Linked DNA regions of Homo sapiens. The protein of the gene in region 2 purifies or fractionates together with the protein of the main gene of each other region. This does not show direct contact. Each region holds a gene or a part of one and is shown on either strand. Other genes may lie near its edges.

The links. Proteins that work in one complex are often made in the same cells at the same time.
Region 1: the proteins of OXNAD1 (region 2) and PLPBP purify together in Homo sapiens (affinity purification with mass spectrometry; 2 studies listed by BioGRID and IntAct, with this or other methods). This does not show direct contact.

The regions. Positions count from the first base shown.
Region 1 is NC_000008.11:37,765,645-37,772,644, reverse strand, and holds part of PLPBP (pyridoxal phosphate homeostasis protein), read right to left. Parts: intron 6,935-7,000; coding exon 6,899-6,934; intron 6,366-6,898; coding exon 6,290-6,365; intron 6,164-6,289; coding exon of another isoform or gene 6,111-6,163; exon of another isoform or gene 4,867-6,110; intron 1-4,866. UniProt on the Homo sapiens protein: Pyridoxal 5'-phosphate (PLP)-binding protein, which may be involved in intracellular homeostatic regulation of pyridoxal 5'-phosphate (PLP), the active form of vitamin B6.
Region 2 is NC_000003.12:16,296,182-16,303,306, forward strand, and holds part of OXNAD1 (oxidoreductase NAD-binding domain-containing protein 1 isoform 2 precursor), read left to right. Parts: intron 1-476; exon of another isoform or gene 477-3,983; intron 3,984-4,995; exon of another isoform or gene 4,996-5,444; coding exon 5,445-5,687; intron 5,688-6,458; coding exon 6,459-6,567; intron 6,568-7,125.

The sequences.
Region 1 (7,000 bases), on a different chromosome or scaffold from region 2:
CACAGTTAAATCTCAGTTCCTCTGAGAAGACAAATGTGACAGTTTTACTAGATACAAATTCAAATGTCAGACCATCCCTGGCTAATCAGCAAAGGTAAATAAGGGAAAAGCTGACATACATGATCAGGCAGCATATACATCCATAAGCTTCAAGAAGCTGGTAACGGACAGATTCCTAGTAAAAGGCTTGATCTATGTCTCAGTTCAAACTGAGAGAAACAGGTCAGGATGACAATGAAGAAAGGATGACCAGTGGAAGCCAAGATGCTTCCCTAGCATATCACCACAATTCTTCAACTTTCTGGGATGAGGGTATTCTTATCCAACAAGGACATCACCATGACCCTAACACTGGCCAGGTGTGGTGGCTCACACGTGTAATACCAGGTGGGTGGATCACCTGAGGTCAGGAGTTTGACACCAGCCTGGCCAACATGGTGAAACCCCATCTCTACTAAAAAACTGCAGCAATCCACAGGACAGATTATCACAGTTTACATAACTATTCCTCGTTAATGGATATTAGATTGTTTCTTATTTTTTATTACAAAAACAAAGCTTGGATATAGAACTTGGTGCTATGTACAAGTATTTCAGATGGGCAGTTTGCAAATATTTTCTCCCATTCTGAGTTGTCTCTTCACTTTGTTGTTTCCTTTGCTCTGCAAGAGCTTGTTTTCTTTTGGAGACAGAGTCTCGCTCTGTCGCCCAGGCTAGAGTGCAGTGGCACAATCTTGGCTCACTGCAACCTCTGCCTCCTGGGTTCAAGCTATTCTTCTGCCTCAGCCTCCCAAGTAGCTGAGATTACAGGCACCCACCACTACACCTCACTAATTTTTGTATTGTTGGTAGAGATGGGGTTTTGCCATGTTGGCCAGGCTGTTCTTGAACTCCTTACCTCGTGATCTGCTGGCCTTGGCCTCCCAAAGTGCTGGGATTACAGGCGTGAGCCACTGTGCCCAGCCTGCAAGAGCTTTTTAACTTGATGTGATCCCATTTGTCCATTTTTGCTTTGGTTGCCTGTGCTTTTGGAGTATTTACTCAAGCAATCTTTGTCAAGGTCAGGTGCAGTGGCTCACACCTGTAATCCCCACACTTTGGGAGGCTGAGGAGGGCAGATCACTTGAGGCCAGGAGTTCAAGACCAGCCTGTCCAACACAGTGAAACCCTGTCTCTACCAAAAAATAAAAAAATTAGCCAGAGATGGCTAGGCATTGTGGCTCACGCCTGTAATCCCAGCACTTGGGGAGGCCGAGGTGGTCGAATCACTTGAGGCCAGGAGTTTGAGATCCATTTGGCCAACATGGTGAAACCCTGTCTCTATTAAAAATACAAAAAAAATTAGCCAGGCCTGGTGGCACATGCCTGTAATCCCAGCTACTCGGGAGGCTGAGGTAGGAGAATTCCTTCAATCTGGGAGGCAGAGGTTGCAGTGAGCCGGGATCACGCCACTGCACTCCAGCCTGGGTGACAGAGCAAGACTAGAAAGACTAAAAAAGAAAGAAATATACATATATGTATTTGGCTTCAAGTGATCCTCCCACCTTGGCCTCCCAAAGTGTTGGGATTACTGGTGTGAGTCACTGCATCTGGCCTCAAGAAGCCTTTATGGAAATGAATTGAGCTGTGAGGTTGAATGAGTATAACGGATCATCCAGAAGGGAAAATGGCACTAAAACAACAGTTCTGTTAGGTTTTCCTGCCCCTTCTATGCCTGCTGGCTCCTTCCCCGCTCCCTCCTCCCATCACCTTTACATATTTCTAACATGGCTAGGTGCAGTGGCTCACACCTGCGATCCCAGCACCTTGGGAGGCTGAGGTGGGCGGATCACCTGAGGTCAGGAATTGGAGACCAGCCTGGCCAACATGGTGAAACCCCGTCTTTACCAAAAATACAAAAATTAGCCAGCATGGTGGGGCGTGCCTGTAATCCCAGCTACTTGGGAGGCTGAGGCAGGAGAATCGCTTGAACCCAGGAGATGGAGGTTGCAGTGAGCCGAGATCATGCCACTGCATTCCAGTCTGGGTGCAGAGTGAGACCCTGTCTCAAAACAAACAAACAAACAAACAAAATTTGTCCAGACTAATGTCTTGGAGAGTTTCCCCAATGTTTTCTTTTAGTAGTTTCAGGTCTTGGATTTAGATTTAAGTCTTTAATCTATTTTGATTTGATTTTTGTACATGGTGAGAGATAGGAGTCTAGTTTTATTCTTCTGCATATGGATATCTAGTTTTCCCAGCAGCACTTATTGAAGAGATTGTCCTTTTCCCAATGTATGTTCTTGGCACCTCTGTTAAAAATAAATTCTCTGTAGATGTACAAATTTATTTCTGAGTTCTCTATTCTGTTCCATTGGTCTATGTGTCTGTTTTTATGCTAGTTTTGGTTACTATAGCTCTACAGTATAATTTGAAGTCAGGTAATGTGATTCCTCCAGCTTTGTTTTTTGCTCAGGATGGCTTTGGCTATTATGGGTCTTTTGTGGTTCCATATAAATTTCAGGACTGTGTTTTTCTATTTCTGTGAAGAATGTCACTAGTATTCTGATAGGGACTGCACTGGATCTGTAGATTGCTTTGGGCAATAAGGACATTTTGACAATACTGATTTTTCCAATTCATGAGCATGGAATATCTTTCCATTTTTTCATGTCCTCTTCAAATTCTTGCATCAGTGTTTTACAGTTTTCATTGCAGAAATCTTTCACTTCTTTGGTGAAGTTTATTCTTAGGTATTTCATTTGTAGCTATTGTAAATGGGATTACTTTCCTGATTTCTTTTCCAGATCATTCACTGTTGGCATATAGAAATGCTACTGATTTTTGTATATTTATTTTGTATCCTGCAATGTTACTGAAGTTGTTTTTCAGTTATAATAGTTTTTTGGTGGAATCTTTATGTTTTTCCAAGACTCTACGGTTTTAGAATCTCCTGGTAAGACGAAGGAGTACTCATTTACTCACTCCCTCAAAACACTGGATCTTAGCAGTCTTTTTGATTTTTTACAAATCTGATTAGTGATTTTGTATTTCTCTGAGGATGAATATTTTTCATTTGATTACTGGCCTTTTGTATTTTTACCCCTTATAAATTGCCCCAGTTTTTGCCTATTTTTTTTCCCTATAAACAAAAAGATTTGTAGCTCTTTATGTATTCTGGATATGAATCTCTTCCCTCTTCAAAAATATTATTTTTCTTCCACTCTGTGCCTCCCTTTTGCTTTGACATGCAGAAAGCTTTAATTTTTGTGTGATCAAATCTGCTAGTTGTTCTTTTAAAATTTATTATTATTAATATTATTATTATTATTAGATAGGGTCTCCTCTGTCATCCAGGCTGGAGTGCAGTGGCACAATCACAGCTCACTGCAGGCTTAACCTTTTGGACTCAGGTGATCGTCCTACCTCAGCCTCCCAGGTAGCTGGGACCACAGACACACACCACTACGCCCAGCTAATTTTTTGTATTTTTAGTGGAGACAGGGTTTTGCCATGTTACCCAGGCTGGTCTTAAACTCTTGGGCTCAAGTGATCCACCTGCCTTGGCCTCCCAAAGTGCTAGATTTACAGGTGTGAGCCACTGTGCCTGGCCTAGTTGTTTTTTTTATGGTTTCCAGATTTTATGTCTTGCTTAGAAAAGCCCAAGAAAATAAAAATATTTTCCTGCATTTTATTCTAATACTTTTATAGCTTTTATTTTCAAGTTAGATTATTTAATCTAGCTGGAATTTACAACTCAATAATGAAAAGACAACTCAATTTAAAAAACATGCAGAGGACTGACTAGACATTTTTCCAAAGAAGACATAAAAATGGCCAATAAGCCCATGAAGAGATGCTCAACATCATTCGTTATTAATGAAAATCAAAACCGCCGGGCGTGGTGGCTCACGCCTGTAATCCCAGCACTTTGGGAGGCCAAGGCAGGCGGATCATGAGGTCTGGAGTTTGAGACCAGCCTAGCCAAGATGGTGAAACCGCATCTCTACTAAAAATACAAAAACATTAGCTGGGCGTGGTGGTGGGCGCCTGTAGTCCCAGCTACTCGGGAGGCTGAGGCAGAAGAATTGCTTGAACCTGGGAAGCGGAGGTTGCAGAAAGCTGAGATCGCACCACTGCACTCCAGCCCGGGCAACAGAGTGAGAATCCGTCTCAAAAAAAAAAAAAAAAAAAAAAAAAGAAAATCAAAACTGTAAGGAGATACCATTTCACATTTTTTGAGTCCAATATATCTCCTTTGTTGACTTATAAGCTATAACTCTTTATTGTGTTATTTTATTGGTTGCTTTGGGGTTTAACTTACAACAGTCCACCTTCAAGGTGTGTTACACTACTTCACACAGTTTAAGAACTTTACAATAGTGTACTTCTGTTTATCCCCTTCTGTTATTGTTGTCATGCATTTTGCTTTTACATAGTTATAAATCCCATAACACAGTTATTTTGTTTATATGACATATAATAAGATTAATAGAGACCCAGCCTTCAAGTAGGATTTATCCTAGGAGTGCAGGGTTGGTTTAACATTTGAAAATCAATAGGCCGGGCATGGTGGCTCATGCCTGCAATCCTAGCACTTTCGGAGGCTGAGGCGGGTGGATCACAAGGTCAGGAGTTCGAGACCAGCCTGGCCAATATGATGAAACCTTGTCTCTACTAAAAACGTAAAAAATTAGCCAGGTGTGGTGGCATGTGCCTGTAATCCTAGCTACTCGGAAGGCTGAGGCAGGAGAATCGCTTGAACTCGGGCGGTGGAGGTTGCAGTGAGCCGGGATCACGCCACTGCACTCCAGCTTGGGCGACAGAGCGAGACTCCATCTCAAAAAAAAAAAAAAAAAAAAAAAAGTAAATAAAAGATCAAGACAGTAAATTTTATGTTTGTTTTATTGCAGTTATAAAAAGTTAAACATAACACTTAACTTGTGATTCAGCCATTCTATTCCTATATATTTATTCCAAGAAAAAGGGAAATATATCCATACAAAGGCTCGTACACAAATATTCATAGCAACTTATTTGCAACAGTCAAAAATCAGAAGCAACCCAACATTCATCAACAGGTGAATGGATAAACAAATTGTAATATACTTATACAATGGAATACTACTGAATGATAAAAAGAATTGAACCTTTGATACAGGTATGAACATGATGAATCACTACACTGAATGAAAGAAGTCAGACAAAAAAGAGTACATACTTCATGATTCCCTTTGGATAAAACTCTAAAAAATGTAAACTCACGTACATTAACAGTGACAAAAGCAGGTAAGTGGTTCTTGAGGAAGAGAAGTGGGACAGGTAAGAGAGGGATTACCAAGGGACAGGAGGAAACTTTTAGGGGTGATAGATATGCTCACTGTTTGTTGTGATGGTTTCACAGGTGCAAACATACATCAAAACTCGTCGAATTCTATACTTTAAATATGTGCAATGTATTGTAAGTCACTTACCTCCCTAATAAAGCTGTTACAAAATATATACAGGTTATTTAAATTTTTATACCTTAAGGGAAATAAGTTCAGTTACTCAAGATCTCCATGTCTTTCTTAATTTTATTTTACTATGATTCTTGTTTTTTTTTTTTTTTTTTTTTTTGGGATGAAGTCTTGCTCTGTTACCTAGTCTGGAGTGCAGTGGCGTGATCTTGGATCACTGCAACCTCTGCCTCCCGGGTTCATGCGATTCTCCTGCGTCAGCCTCCTGTGTAGCTGGGACTTGACAGGCATGCACCACCACGCTCAGCTATTTTTTTGCATTTTTAATAGAGTTGGGGTTTCACCATGTTGGCCAGGCTGGTCTTGAACTCCTGACCTCAGGTGATCCGCCTGCCTCGGCCTCCCATGGTGCTGGGATTATAGGTGTCAGCCACCGCGCCTGGCCTACTTTACTATAATTCTTAATTTTACTTTACTATACTTACTTTACTGTATTGTATTTTATTTACTGTAGCCTTTTATTTAAAGGAAAAAGAACAGAAATGTCTCTTTTGCTAGTTAAAAAAATTTATGGGCTACAATTCTTTATAATTTTTCTGAAAGACCACCAAATAATAATAAACATGAGGTTGGGTAGGTTTCCAAGTATATATAACCCAGAAAATGGTGAATTCATTCTGTTCTTGGCATGATGTTTTCTCTTTTTATTAAGAACTCAGACTTTCCTAAAGAAATTCCAAAAACAAATGGTGAATTGGGGCTATTCTAAAAGTTGCTCTCTCTTCCACAAAGGGTAGTAGAAGCAATACAATGACAGAACAATTTTGTTTTCATATTTAATTTTATCTTACCCATCAATTTGTTGACATTTTGTTTCTGTAGGTGGCCAATGAAGTGCCATTTGATCTCAGGACACAAAGACAGAATCTGAGGGGAAAAAGGTAACCATGTGTAATTCAGATTTTATAGAGGCCTTGCTGGCTCAAACGCCTCGTGCACTCCCTGTCACCTTTCACATCCACTCTCTGTTCCTTAAATGTAATAAACTATCACAATCTTCACCCGGCCTCCTAATGAGGTAAAAGGATAGAGAAAAATCTAAGGCTTCTGTTCTGTTTTCCTTCCTTGTTCCCATCAATTCCCTCCATCTTTCAGATATTGCCCATCTAGGATGAACTGATTTAAGCTTTCAAATCTTGAAAAGATCCAAGATTACAGCAAGCTCCTGAAACCACCATTTCCAAACAGCCACCAATGAGAAAACGACAGTCTGAACAAAGAGAAAAATCTAGCTGAGAATTACTTGGGGCTCAAGGAGGAAGCTGACATTTCTATCCCTGGCCCAATCTAAAGTCAACCACCCTAAAACTGCTGTACAACTCAACCACCAGGATGGGTCTAATTTTCAACTAAAGAGCCAAGATTTAGATACAAATTAAAGAATTCAGCTATCTACTTACTTTGGGATTTGATGCTTTTTCTAGCAGTTCCTGAACCTAAAAGGTCAAAACAGAACAAGTCAGAAGCCTGGCAATCATGATGCTTCCAAAGGGCTTCAGGAA
Region 2 (7,125 bases):
CTGTAGTAGCTGAAGAGAGCTTTTATGTTGTGAAAACCAGCTAGCTTAGGATACTCTCTGGCCCATCCCCCAATGTAGGACCCTCTTGCAAATAGTCCAAAAAAAAGCACAGTTCATTTCAATCCCATGAAAGAAATCAAAGAAGACATGAGTAAATAGAGAGATGTACTGTGTTCATAGATTGGAAAACTCAACATAGTAAAGAAGTCAGTTCTCCTTAAATTGATTTACAGATTTAACATAACAATAATCAAAATCTCAACAGGATTTTTTATAGATATGGACAAAGTGATTTTAAAATTTATATGGAACAAAAAAGGACCTAGGATAGCTAAAACAATTTTGAAAAAGAAGAATAAAGTGAGAAGAATCACCTTAATCAAATTTAAGATAAAGCTACAGCATTCAAAACAGTATGGTATTGGTGAAAGGAGAGAAACACATCAAATAATGTTACAGAATGAAGAGTTCAGAAATAGACTGACATATATGGTCACTTTATTTTTGACAAAGGTGGTAGATTCAATGGAAAAATTGAAAGGCAAAAGGATAAACTTTTCAACAAAAGTTCTGGAACAATTTTGCATCTAGATGCAAAAAACAAAAAAACGAAAAACCAAAAACCTTCAACCTAAACCTAAACCTCATACTTTATATTCAGAATTAACTCAAAACGGATTGTAGATCTAAATGTAAAACATGGTACTATAAAAGTTCTAGAAGAAAATGGGATATTTGGAACTTGAGGGTAGGTAAAATTCTTAAACACAATACCAAAAGCAAGATCCATCAAAAAAAAGGTTGATGATAGGACATGGTCAAAAGTAAAACTTTTTCTACAAAAGGCATTTAACACAATTTAAAAACAAGCTACAGACTAGGAGAAAATATTTACAAATCAGATATCTAACAAAGGGCTTGAATCTAGAATATATAAAGAAATCTCAAAAGTCAACAAAAAGAAACAAGCAACATGATTTTTTTAAATGGACAAAGGATTGAACAGACACTTCAGTAAAAAAGGATATGATGATGGCAAATAAGCAATGAAAGGTATTGAAACATCGTTAACCCTGAGGGAAATGTAAATTAAAACCATATGTGGTGGGATGCCACTACGATCTAGTCTAATGTCTAAAATTAAAAATATTGACAATACCAAGCGTTGGCAAGGATGTGGAGCAACTGGAACTCTCATATATTGCTTATATTGCTAGTGGGAATGCAAAATAGTACAGCCGATCTGGAAAGCATTTTAGCAGTTTTCTATAAAGTTAAACATACACCTAACATATGACCCAGCAATACCACTTCTGAGTGTCTTAGAGAAATGAAGGCTATGTTTATATAAAAGCATAACATGAATATTTATAGCAGTTCTATTCATAATTATTAAAAACTTCTAGAAACAACCCAAATGTCCCTCAGCAGGTGAATGGATAACTTGTGATATAGTCATACAAGGGACTATTAAAGAGATGAATTATTGATGCATGCAGCAATGTGGGTGAATCTCAGAGGCATTCTGTTGAGTGCAAGGAGGCAGTCCCAAAAGGTTACATACTGTAAAATCCCATTTTTGTCACATTCTGGAAGACAAAGATATAATGATGGGAAACCAGTGGTTGACTGGGGTTGAGATTACTGTAAAGGTAGGATCGATAGCACAGGGGAATATTTTCAGGGGGTGATGGAACTAATATATGTTTTGATTTTGATGATTGTTACCCAGATCTATATGTGTGTTAAAATTCATAGAACCGTATACCAAAAGAAAAAGATTTCTATTAAGGAAATTTTTAAAATAAGTTTTTAAAAATGTGCAGGAGCAACATAATATATTCTTGTGGTTTACACGTCAAGTTGTGTCTGTCCAGGATAACCCCCAGATGCCTGTGTAGGCATTTCCATTGTAAATGTATCCTGTCACATTTTTACCCTGCAACCTTCTGAGTCTCTCCGTCAGTGTGGCCTCAGCTGCCTCATTGCTTTTTGGAGTCTCTGGATTTTCCCCTCATTACTGGCTCTAGGTTGCTCCTAGAGGTGCTAAAATATGCTGCTGGGGTGAGAGCAACGAGGTATCTGCATGCCCCTTGCTCAGAGTTGAAATAAGCATAGCCATCCCAGTTCCTAGTGCCATGAACATCTCCCCATCCTCCCTGTTATCCTTAGCTTCTCACGCGACCTGGCCTGGTCCTGGTCCACAGCTTCCTGCTTGGTTTCATGCCTCATTGGCATTTCAGTGAAGAAACTTATTCTTACAGGCTGTAGAAAATCTCAAAGTGTTATTGCCTGAATGCACATCCTAATTGTAGTGCCTGCTCTACTCTGCCCAGTGGGAGTTGCAAACAGCCTTTATGAAGTCAGATTTTTCTTGGAATCATTTTCAGGTGGCTATTTTCCTCCTGAGGATTTGTCTTATTAAGCCATTCGAGTGGACAATGGAGGCACGTGAGTGTCTGGGTGGCAGCAGGCTGCACCGTTGAGACATGGAATAAAGTGCCATAAACGTCTTCCTTTATTTTATCTGCTTTGGCTCAAGCTCTTGGCAGGGTAAAGGGTTCTAGACAGCTATTGTGTGCTCAGCTCCAGTTGCTGTGGAAAGGTTGTTTATTTCACAAGTAGAAAATCTATACCAAAATTAGATACATTGCTGTGTAATTGAAGGTAATGTCCTTTTATTCACTTACATATTACAGTGTACAGTACTTTGAGTCTTGTGTTCGTGTTACCCTCGCAGTTTTTATTGATCAACAAAAAGACAAAGATGGCTTTTAATTCTTCCCGGATGCTACCAAATCAGAATACAGACCTACCGAAGATTATTTTGTCGTCAAGGATAAGACAGGCTTCTTGAATATTATCTTTCCCTGGGGCACATTTTCTTGCCAACTTTAGAGTTGAAAATACTCTGGTTTCTAAAAACAATAACCTAGAGGCTTTCTTTGTTGTCATTACTAAGCATGCCAAAGATGGCCACTGGAGAAAATTATTTCAGTCTCTTTCACTCTGATTCTTATAGATAAAGAGAGAACTGCACAGGCAAGCAAGAGAGGGAGGGAAGGAGGATATAGGAGATGAAATTCATTGTCATCGTTAGGCAGAGCCTCTTGTATCTTAAATTCTATTTTTGAGACTTGAAAGGAAAGAATATTTTAAAGCACTTTGGTAGCCACTGTAGCAGTTCCTAGATTTTAGTTATTCCTAACTGAATGCTCCCTTGCTGCTAATTTCTTTTGTCAAAAATGAAAACCCACTTATCACCATTCATGTAAAAATCTCCCACATATTTAAAATAGTGAGGTTCAGACATTTTTTCCCCTGAAAGAGTATCCATTCATTTAACAGTTCTTTACCAAAAAAGACATGTTTTTGTGAATTCAAATAATTTTCATTTTTCTTAGATCTTCTCTAAATTTAACTCAACTTTAACTTGCAGAGACCAAATTAAATTCATGTCCAGAAGTACCTACTGCTCACCTGACATGCAAGGTGCCAAGGTGTGAATGCTAAGGGTTTGGTTCTCAAAAAGCACGCGATGTGTTATTACTTCTTAGGAGGGCATTCATTTAGTTGATTTATGCCAGGAACGTGTAATGGGAGAAACCTATGCTCTTAATACAAGTTTCTTTATTCCTAGAATCTGTTTTTTAGTGACAGGGAAGAAGGAAGCTGGTATTGCCAGCACTTTTTCTTTTGTGACAGCTGCAATGACCAAAATTCCTTCTTATGTAGAGCCAGATACTCGGGAGTTCCACCCACTGTGAGTCAGTTCATGTTCACACCAACCCTGTGAGGTGGGCAGTGCAGGTGCTGGTACCCATTTTCCAGGGGTGGCAGATGAGGCTCAGAATTTAAGGGACTTGCTGGATTTCATAGGGGCTATGATTAAAATTCAGTCTTTTGACTCCTAGATCAGTGGTTTTTTTCCAAACAAGGGATTACCAACTCGGTCAGATCCAATGCTCCTTTCTAGAACTGTCCTGAAATGAAAGTCATAGTTAATGTAATGTACCCATAGGTTTTTTTTTAAATAACATAATTCTCTAACTAATACAAAGGAGAAATAAAAGAAAGTGATCCATAATCAAAGAGTATGTATTTTAAAATATAAATGGTTAGGCAGATCTAACTGGAAGATAGAATGAAGTAATCAGATGGCTATTCCTAAACATAGAATCACCGTGAATACACTGTCTACAAATGCAGATGATAAAGATGTGTTGTGTGGGTGACACATGTCACTAAGTGGAATGTGGTTTTCCAGAACAGTGAACATGCTTGGTTAAGTTCTGAACACAACAAAGTGTAATCTACACTGTGGCTACTGAGTTTATTTGTAAAATGAGCTAGAGTCTAGTCTCAGATCATTATAAACCAGTTTTCACCTACAAGAACGTCTTTTGGGCCATTCACAAGTCATTGTGCAGGACAGTCTTGTGCATTGTAGATAATGGTGTGCTGGCAAACCAGCTGTCTGAATTTATCTGAGTTGTATCATTTGCTGATTTCTGTGCTGTAAGTACTCCTACAATGGCTGATTTCAAACTACCAGTAGGAACTTTCTCACAAAATTCCTGTAGATTTGACCACCAGCTTAGTAGGAGCCAGCTCTGGGAAACCACGAATTTTGTAGGATCTCTAGCATCTCTGGCCCTGCCCTTTAAATGCCAGTTGGATTCCCCAAATCATTGTGACAATAAAAAATGTCATCACAAGTTTCCCAAACACCTTCATCAGAAGCAGTAGCACCCCCACTGAGAAAAACAGTACATTCAACTCTGATGGTATTACGGGCATAAGTGACCTCACCAAATAGGTGCTTTATCTAGATAGGTCTATGTGATACTCCCTAGTATGAAGCCTCTGGCTGCCTGTTCTTGTTTCTCTAGGGAGACAGGAACAGCACTGAACAGTACTACAGGGCTGGTCTAAGCCTGTAGAGCTGGTCTGGCTGTGCCTTACTGAGGATCAAGAAGGAGCACCAGTACTTACACTTTTCAGCCTTGATGAACCCAGGGCAGGCAGTCTAGTGACATTTGCCACATCCTGTTTCTCTCAGCTTTGGTTAGAACACAGGAACACAACTCAGATAAAGGAGACCCATACTTCAGAGCTGTACCCTGCCTTTGAGTCCATTGCCTCTTTCCTCAATCCAGTTCATCGCCTAAGAAGTTAACAAATGGTGAAATCACTGAAGCACATCTCCTTTTCTCAGTATTGGAATGGCTGTTCATTATGGATTACGAAGGTGGATTAGCCTGTGGCCTATAAAATGAGCAAGTGGAATCAATTCACAGGGCATCGGGAAAATTGGGAGCAAGCTATAAAAATAGTCTTAAATACTGATAATACAGGAGATAGACCCAGTTTTATTAAAGTAGAACATTTGGTTTAAGACCTTTGCTACAAAAGACTAAAAGGTCTTTTCTTTCCTGCCTTAGTGTACACTTGACTGTGAAGTGGCTGTGAGAGTGGGTGGAGAGTTCTTCTTTGACCCTCAGCCTGCGGATGCCTCTAGAAACCTCGTGTTGATTGCAGGAGGAGTCGGAATTAACCCTCTGCTTTCCATCCTGCGGCACGCAGCAGATCTCCTCAGAGAGCAGGCAAACAAAAGAAATGGATATGAGATAGGAACAATAAAACTATTCTACAGTGCAAAAAATACCAGCGAACTCCTGTTTAAGGTAAGGGAGGTATAGCTTGCTGTAAGCAAACTTGTGTAGTGGTATTAATTGTTCATGAAAGTTTTTTCTCTAGGTTTTGTTTTCTCTGCAAAGGTTCAAACAAAAGGCTTGGCAAGATTTAATCATGCTTAAATGAGAACTAACCAACACACCTTACCCAAGACAAGTAAAACTGCTAGTGTTGAAGAGGCTAGCAGTTAGGTGACAGGAAAGGGTAGGTTTTGGTGGGATGGAATCTGGAGGTTAAATGAACAGAAAAGTCACAAGGGTCCCGAGATTCCAGTCAAGAGACCTACAGTGGACTAGTGTATCACAGGAGTAGGTAAGACTTAGACAGTTTGGACCCAGCTGGGTAAATGAAACCCCTGTCAGTTGCATCTGTTTAAACTAAGTGCATTTGATGAAGAAAGCTTTCACTGGGGATTGCTTTGCAGCTGCAGGAATGAACAAAAGAACAGAAACAGTTAAAAGACACAACTGTGGTCAGTGAAACTGCTGCTTAATTGCCAATGCTTGAGAAAAAGGAAAAAGAAAAAACTCCCGGAGAGTTGGTAATATGCTTGTTAGCATATTCAGATTTCAATTAAAGCCAAATAGCCCTCTGTAGTCTGAATGCTCTGGCCTGCTAGGCTGCAAACAATATCTCTCTAAGTAGAGAGCGAGAGCGGCAGACGTGTGCAGAATGGGAGTTGAGGTTCAGCGTCAATGGTTGTGCACATCTGTTTTGATTTTTTAAAATTGTAGTGTGACCAAATATGTTTGACATTCCAGAAAAATATCCTTGATTTAGTAAATGAATTTCCTGAGAAGATTGCATGCAGTTTGCATGTTACAAAACAGACTACACAAATCAATGCGGAACTCAAGCCATACATCACGGGTGAGTCCCCTAAAGATATTTTGACTATCTCCATGCAGTTATTTGATGGACACACCAGTTGGTTGAGCGTAGATGCTTTATTGTTGGAAGCTGCTGGCTGGGAATGTCACTATCTGGGGAATTGGGATGATTCCTCATGGAAAAATGGATATTTAGTTGGGTTTACTCATTATATACAGGTTTCCTATTGCCTGTGTTAAAAGTGTACTTTTCACACTTTTTAAGAGGCCTTTGCATCATCACTGTAGTGTCCATACAAATAATTTATATTCCAGATTTGGCTGAATTGATTCCATTTGCCATTAATGGTCATTTAAACAACTCATAATTTCCTCTGAAAGGATTTTTATAAAACAGTTACTTCCTTTGCTGAAGGCAATTTGTATCTCCATCAAAGACCAGTAAGCTAGCTGGCCCTTTCTGCAGAGTGCATTACGATGAGCTTCCCACTTTGCTTGCTTAGGTTTAGGAAGCCTGGAGATGCACTCTGCTTGGGTCTGGGCCCAGATGCCAATAGGAGCCATACTGTGAATGGCTTAAGAAGACTAGACTCACTGA